Linked DNA regions of Homo sapiens. Changing the gene in region 1 together with any one later gene gives a genetic interaction. Each region holds a gene or a part of one and is shown on either strand. Other genes may lie near its edges.

Evidence for each region. A genetic interaction does not mean that the proteins touch.
Region 2: changes in GOSR1 (region 1) and TRAPPC13 are lethal when combined (synthetic lethality), as found in Homo sapiens cells (one study listed by BioGRID).

What each region holds. Positions count from the first base shown.
Region 1 is NC_000017.11:30,480,271-30,484,025, reverse strand, and holds part of GOSR1 (Golgi SNAP receptor complex member 1), read right to left. Parts: intron 2,884-3,755; coding exon 2,769-2,883; coding exon of another isoform or gene 2,763-2,768; intron 1-2,762. UniProt on the Homo sapiens protein: Involved in transport from the ER to the Golgi apparatus as well as in intra-Golgi transport. It belongs to a super-family of proteins called t-SNAREs or soluble NSF (N-ethylmaleimide-sensitive factor) attachment protein receptor.
Region 2 is NC_000005.10:65,634,966-65,638,720, reverse strand, and holds part of TRAPPC13 (trafficking protein particle complex subunit 13), read right to left. Parts: intron 3,421-3,755; coding exon 3,352-3,420; intron 2,778-3,351; coding exon 2,678-2,777; intron 1,026-2,677; coding exon 941-1,025; intron 1-940.

The sequences.
Region 1 (3,755 bases):
TCTCTCTTCTTTCCTTGACTCTTACCAAGAGGAAATAAGATTGAGGTTTAAATGATCCACAGATTGGATAACTAGCTAACGAATACTCAGGAACTGGCTTTAAATCCAATATATACAGCCATGTCCTGCATGCTTTGGTACTAATCTTCTCCATTTTCACTTACAGTATGCAATCATCCTTTTGTTTTGTAGAATTGTGTTAAATTGCCTTTTCAAATCTGAATAGTCAAAAATCTATCTTTTTACAAGTGAAACTTAGGTTTGACAGATTCAAATTCTAAACCCACCTGTCCTCAGTGTTTCTTTTGCCTTTTCCAAAACACCACTAACCTTCATCAGGTTAGGTATGTATTAGCATCTGATGAGCAGCTCAATACAGATCAGAGTTATACTGGACACAGATAAATGCCCAGGCAATGACTATAGTCTCCAATCTTACTGAAGACTTTGTGCTACCCTGTGACAGTGCCTGGGTGTGGCAAATGAAAAGTATTAAATAAATGCTCTGTAGACTACTAATATAAATCCTCCTCTACCAGATATATGAAAAAGAACAATATGCCAATAGAATTAAAGCTTCATGAAGGAAGGAAAAAACTGCTCTGTCTTATTCATAGATATATGCCTAGCACCTAGTATACAGCCTGGCACATAGTAGATGCTCATTAAACTTCTGCTGAATAAATGAATGAACACGAGAGCAATCTCTACTACTGGTTATTCTATACTCATTGTATTCATATATTCATCAGGACAGTGTAAGAGTAAAGGGAAATGGCCAAACACTAATTCTTCACAATACTGGGATTCAGTTAAATTTAATTCATCTTATAGGTGGGTAATGATTCATAGACCTTGAAGTTCTCAAAATACAGAAAGTTAAAAAAAAAAAAAAAAAGAAAGAAAGATGCCTGGAATAAATAATATTCTAGTTATTGCTTAGTTGACTCATAGTGACATGCTTCCAACCTGGGCATCAAACAAGACACTTTAGAATAGACATCAAATCCTGATCCTCATGGCCTTAGGTTTTTATTTAGAAGGGGAGTTAGGCTGAAGTAATTCTACAAAGCCAGTTTCAGTTTGTGGTAGAATTTCTTGGGAAATGTTTTCAAGATAGTTTTTCCTTTAGAGGAATAACAAAAGTATTAGTTCATGAAGCACACAGAACATAGAAAATGCATAGAAAGAACATTCTTCATTCTCTTTACTTGCTAAATAAAGCCAAGCCCAAAGCAATGCAATCTATTTGATGTGTTAGTAATTTATTTTTAGATCCTAGAGTCAATGTTGGCCTTGCTGCCTTTACAACCAAGGAGTCCTTATGAAAAAGAAATAGTAATTTGGCTATAGTGTTGAAATCAGCTTTTTGTTCAAATGTATACACTATAGTAGGGTTTAGAGTGTGGGCTCTGGAGATAGATCTAGATTCAAATCTAAGCTCAGATTTCATTGTTTTTATTAGCTGACAAATATCCTACTCACTTCTAATCTTTGAAAAAGTATGTAAAATAAGTGTGGATTAACAACAACTCTGCTACCAGCAATTTCACCGCTAGGTATATAGAAACATTCTGCGTAAAAATGTTCCCAGCAGCATTTATAGAAAGCTCTTACCTAACATATAATGAACACTCTTATGTCAGCTATCAAAATTATTATTAATTAGCAAAAATTAGAAACAATGGCCATCATCAAATGGTTAAACTGTGATAGTCATAAAATACTACATATGAATTACAAATGAATATACCAGAGTTAAATGAATCCATAGCTGAATCTCAAAAATGTTAAAGAAAAAGTTGTAGAATAACTATATTATATATATACTATATAACATAATAGAATACTATGAATTGCTCAGGAATATAAACATGCAGTAAGAATATATGTGGATTATGGGGTGGGAGAAAGTGGGGTGCCATAAGGGGCTTCAGTGGAATGAGTAATTATCATTTTTTAAAAATGGGAGATAGGGTCATGGGGGTTCATGATATTATTCTTTGTAACTGTCTTAAATATTGCCTAATTAAAAAATTTTTTTTTATTTCTATTTTTTTTAGAGACAGGGTTTCACCATGTTGCCCAGGCTAGTCTTGAACTCCTGGGCTCAAGTGATCCATCCGCCTCAACCTCCTAAAGTCCCGGGATTACACGCGTCATCTACTGTGCCTGGCTACTCCCAATATTTTCTTGAAACAAGTGGATGACTTACAGAGAGCATAAGCTTCAAAGATAAGAATGTATTTTCCATACATTTAATATGGTAATACACTAGTTTCCCAAAAAAGTACCAAAATTAAAGATAGCTTTGATAATTAATAACAAGGATACACAGTGCATTAGATACCCTCTAATACAATAAACACCAGAAAAGCAGTATGTATACCTGGCACCTGGGTAGATCCACAGGTCCATTTAGCAATTGAAAAACACAAGAAATACATGCCACACGGGCAAATCAGCCACCTTTTCCCTACACTGGCTGAATTAGACACTTATATTTTTGATACAAACTTATTCTGAAGTTCTAGCAGGTTTCTTCTGACACTGTAACAATCTTTGCCTAAGGATTCCAAATAAATGCTAGTCTCGAGAATTCAGAAGAATTTTAATAAGTCACTAAAAAATAAAACAATGAATGGCAAAACAAAACACCAAAAATTCACCAATAGACCAACTTACAGAAGTTATATATTTTAGTTTATTTTTTAATGCTTTAAAAACACAGTTAAGGCATAGGAGACAGAATCTGGTAGTACCTATACCTGTCGCGTCTTCCATCTCGGGTACTGCTATGACTGTAACTTGTACATAGTTTGCTGAAGGAAACTAGTTTCAGGTCAAGTTCATTTTCCAGCTGTCGAGCCTGTTTCCTGAGATCTTTAACAAAATTATAACAACAAATAATTAGACATAAAAAGTAGACACAAAAATCACAGCACCATTCTAAAGAAAACAAACTATGAAAATGATCATATACTGATCTTGTTACCCCCATAAAGAAAAGTGTTGGCTGGGCACGGTGGTGCACGCCTGTAATCCCACCACTTTGGGAGGCCAAGGTGGGCGGATCACCTGAGGTCGGGAGTTTGAGACCAGCCTGATCAACATGGAGAAACCCTATCTCTACTAAAAATAGAAAATTAGCCAGGTGTGGTGGCGCACGCCTGTAATCCCAGCTACTCGGAAGGCTGAGGCAGGAGAATCGCTTGAACGCAGGAGGCAGAGGTTGCGGTGAGCCAAGATTGCGCCATCGTACTCCAGCCTGGGTAACAAGAACAAAACTATGTCTCAAAAAAAGGAAAATAAAAGTCTTAAAAGAAGGAAACCAAGGACTTGCCCAGCAAAGCAGATTAGTCACTTATAAACTTCAGAGGGGGCAAGAAGGGAAATAGTAATGGTAGATGCAACTTCGCAGCTTTACTCCAAAGATGGCTAGAAAACAAATGTTGTTCTATCCTTCCTGAAACTATTTGTATAGCAATAACTAAAATTCTGCAATTCAGAGAAAAACAAGAAGATAATACAAATCACAAAGGAACTAAAAATATGGTTTATGACCAGCATTATCAACTTACCAGTTAATGTTATAAGAAAGAAGCCATTATTCTTTTGAAAGGGATTTTGCTTTTTATGTTCCAAAGCTTTATTAGGCTTATGAACTTCTTTTCATAATAGCAAAATGACTTACCTTTTTTTTTCTTTTTTTTTTTGAGATGGAGTCTCGTTCTGTCACCCAGGCTGGAGTGCAG
Region 2 (3,755 bases), on another chromosome or scaffold:
TTGCTCCTCCTTGCCTTCCGCCATGATTGTCCCCAGCTACGTGGAACTATAAGTCCATTAAACCTCTTTCTTTGGTAAATTGCCCAGTCTTGGGTATGACTTTATCAGCAGCATGAAAATGGACTAATACAGCTACTATTCCTCTGTACCACCTTACGGACTCTTACCAAGTGAAATTTGTTCACTGTTAAAAGAACACATGTGTACCACTATGTCTCTGCCTCTGATTACCATGTCTCCCTTGCCTTGTTATCTGTATCCTCCCATTCTTTCAAGATCCTCTTCGCATTCCCTCTCCCCCAAGAAACCTTCCAGATTGACATAATCTCCAGTGATCTTTCATCTTCCATGTTAATGACATACATTAACAAATACTAAACTGCTATTTAGCTTTGACTAGTACATTTTCTCACCCAAGCAATCACAAATCTTGTGGAATAGGAAAAATGTTTTCATGCCTAACATAATACTTTATAACTGTAGGCATTCATTAGTGCTTGTTAATGACAATTAAAAATTATTGTATCAAACGTGCATTTAATGAAGTGCCAAAAACATAATAGATATAAAAAAACCTTTTTTTCTTTTTTTTTTTTTTGAGATGGAGTCTAACTCTGTCACCCAGGCTGGAGTGCAGTGGCGTGATCTTGGCTCACTGCAACCTTCACCTCCCGGGTTCAAGCCTTAGCCTCTCCTGCCTTAGCCTCCCGAGTAGCTGGGACTACAGGTGTGCACCACCACACCTGGCTAATTTTTGTATTTTTAGTAGAGATGGGGTTTCACCATGTTGGCCAGGCTGGTCTTGAACTCCTGACCTCAGGTGATCCACCTGCTTCAGCCTCCTAAAGTGCTAGGATTACAGGCATGAGCCACCATGCCCGGCCTAAAAAAAAACCTTTGTTAAAGACTAAAATACATCCCAAGTAAGAATGTTACTTACTTTTACTAATATGTCTTTTACAACTTGATTGCTATCATTATGAACGCTGATATAACTGGAAAAGGTCTCTCCCAAAAATATATTCCTGTAAAATAAAATAAGTATTTAGGCAGAAATCCATTCAGGTTTTTTTTCTTTTTTTTTTTTTTTGAGACAGAGTCTCGCTCTGTCACCCAGGCTGGAGTGCAGTGGCACGATCTAGGCTCACTGCAAACTCCGCCTCCCATGTTCACCCCATTCTCCTGCCTCAGCCTCCCGAGTAGCTGAGACTACAGGCACCCACCACCACGCCTAGCTAATTTTTTGTATTTTTAGTAGAGACGGGGTTTCACCATGTTAGCCATGATGGTCTCGATCTCCTGATCTCATGATCCGCCCGCCTCAGTCTCTCAAAGTGCTGGGATTACAGGCGTGAGCCACTGTGCCCATCAGGTTTTACATTAAATAATCTGTTTGAGAATCACTAAGAACTTCAAATGGAGAAACATTTACTGAAGGATAGAAATCTGGTGAAATACTGCTTCAACATTCCTTTGTTCACACTAGGCCACTCATTCATTACCTAGTGCAATTCAAAATACAGACGTAATCTATAGAACATGATATATCTTGGCCTTTGACTACTGTACAAAATGCCAACCTCACTAGAGATAAGACTCATTGAAATTAGACCTATGCTAAAGTCTTAGGATTTGTATCTGAATAGGTTAGAGAGAGCCAAGTTTCCATTCTTGAAATAACTTATTCCCTGAATCTAGAAGAGATCTAAGTTACTGATATTGGGGTATTTTTACCAATTTATTTTATTTCCTAGGTTACTTGAATAAAAATCACCAGTGGTTTTATTTTAGTTTTATACTTTTTACATGAATATATTTCCCAGTTTTTCAAGACACTAGTCAATGACCACATTCTGTAAAACTATAAAAACAATCTGTAAAATTTCTTTTTGTCTCAAATTCTGTCTGTTGCAAACAGAGTGGAACCAGGGGCTTCTACCTTATTATTAATCTAGAATAATAATACAGCTAAGGATAACAGAAGAAATAAATTTAGAGTTCCTAATTAGCTGACAAGTCTGATAACTCATTTTGGGAGAGGACTATGATGCAAAAAAACAAAGACTGGCTTCTGAAAAAGATGTTTACATTAGTAGTTAAAAGACTATGTGGCCATTACAAAATATAGTAAGATCTAAAGAAGAAAGTTAAAATTCTATTATGCTAGGAACCACTATTAACATTTTATTTTGGTATATATCTTTTTTTTTTAATAACAGAAAGCCATAATCACATAGTATGATTTTTTAATAATATTTTTGCCCCTCAAATGTATCATGTCCTAGGCGTGGTGGCTCATGCCTGCAATCCAAGCACTTTGGGAGGCTGAGGCGGGTGGATCACCTGATGTCAGGAGTTCAAGGTCAGCCTGGCTAACATAGCAAAACACGGTCTCCAATAAAAACACAAAAATTAGCCAGAGCGGTGCGCACGCCTGTAATCCCAGCTACTCGGAAGGCTGAGGCACGAGAATTGCTTGAACCCAGGAGGTGGAGGTTGCACTGAGCTCAAATGGCACCACTGTACTCCAGCCTGGGCAATAGAGCGAGACTCCATCTCAGAAAAAAAAAAAAAAAGGTAAATGTATCATGAGCATTTCCCCATCCCATGGTTCTGTTTTGAAAACATAATTTGTAATGGCTTTACAAGGTTTCTTATGTGAATATGTCATTCTTACCCAAAATTCTGTGGTAAAGTCAGCATTTCTCCCAACATTAAAACTTCTGCACCATTAACGGTTGAAGGATCATCTCTCATCAGCTGGTTAAAGAGATCTCCTGAATGAAGAGAAAAACATAAAATTCTAACATCTACCCTTTAAATAACTTTTACTTATATAAAGAAATAGCTGGGAGAGATATTTTAAAAAACAACCTCTTGACAAAGATGATATTTAAAAAGTCTAACTTCTAGATTTTAATACAACAAAGCATGTCAAAAAAATTCTGATCTCACAGGGAATGGAAACTTTAGAAACAAAGAAAAATGTACGTCATGAGATAGAAAATATACTAGAGAAAGCCCCAATAATTCTTAAAAAAAAAAGGGAATGCTAATACATACATTGATGCAACATTTGAGGATAAAGGCAATTTTAATAGTATTATGAATATGAATGTATCTTAAACTGTCTCATACTGCCATAGGATATCAACATAATTTGGACTTGTAGAGTATAAGTAAGGCCTGTTACTCAGATGGCCACCTTTCACATGATACAAAAATAGGCAACAAAGAATCCAGCAAATGGTTAGCATAAAATTTACAGGGCTAGGCTTAGTCCAAGGTAATGCAGGCAATTCAGGTTTCAACCTTTCCCTAGGTGCAAATAGAGGAAAGCATGTGCCATACCAGGTAAGTCTTTCTCTTCACATGTTACTGGGATATTGGTGAATAAAGTAGGCTTAGTCAGCCGCATCACTGTGAAGTAAAAAAGTAAAAGAAAACAAAACATTAATACTGCTTAGGGTTAATATTCTCAAGTCTAGTGTATGACATTCATCCATTTTATACTAACATAAAATATAACCTAAATACTTCCTAAATATAATACTACATACTTCCTAAGGTTATCACACATCAGTGATTTATTAAGAATTGTAATGTTACAAAATAAGCACCATTTATTTACAACCTATGAATTATAAAAATTAAATGTAAATACAATATGCATTCATTATAGAAAAACTGGAAAATATAATTTTTAAAGCTTAAAGAGTATTAGGAGCATAAGGCTTTAAAAAAATTCTAAGTGA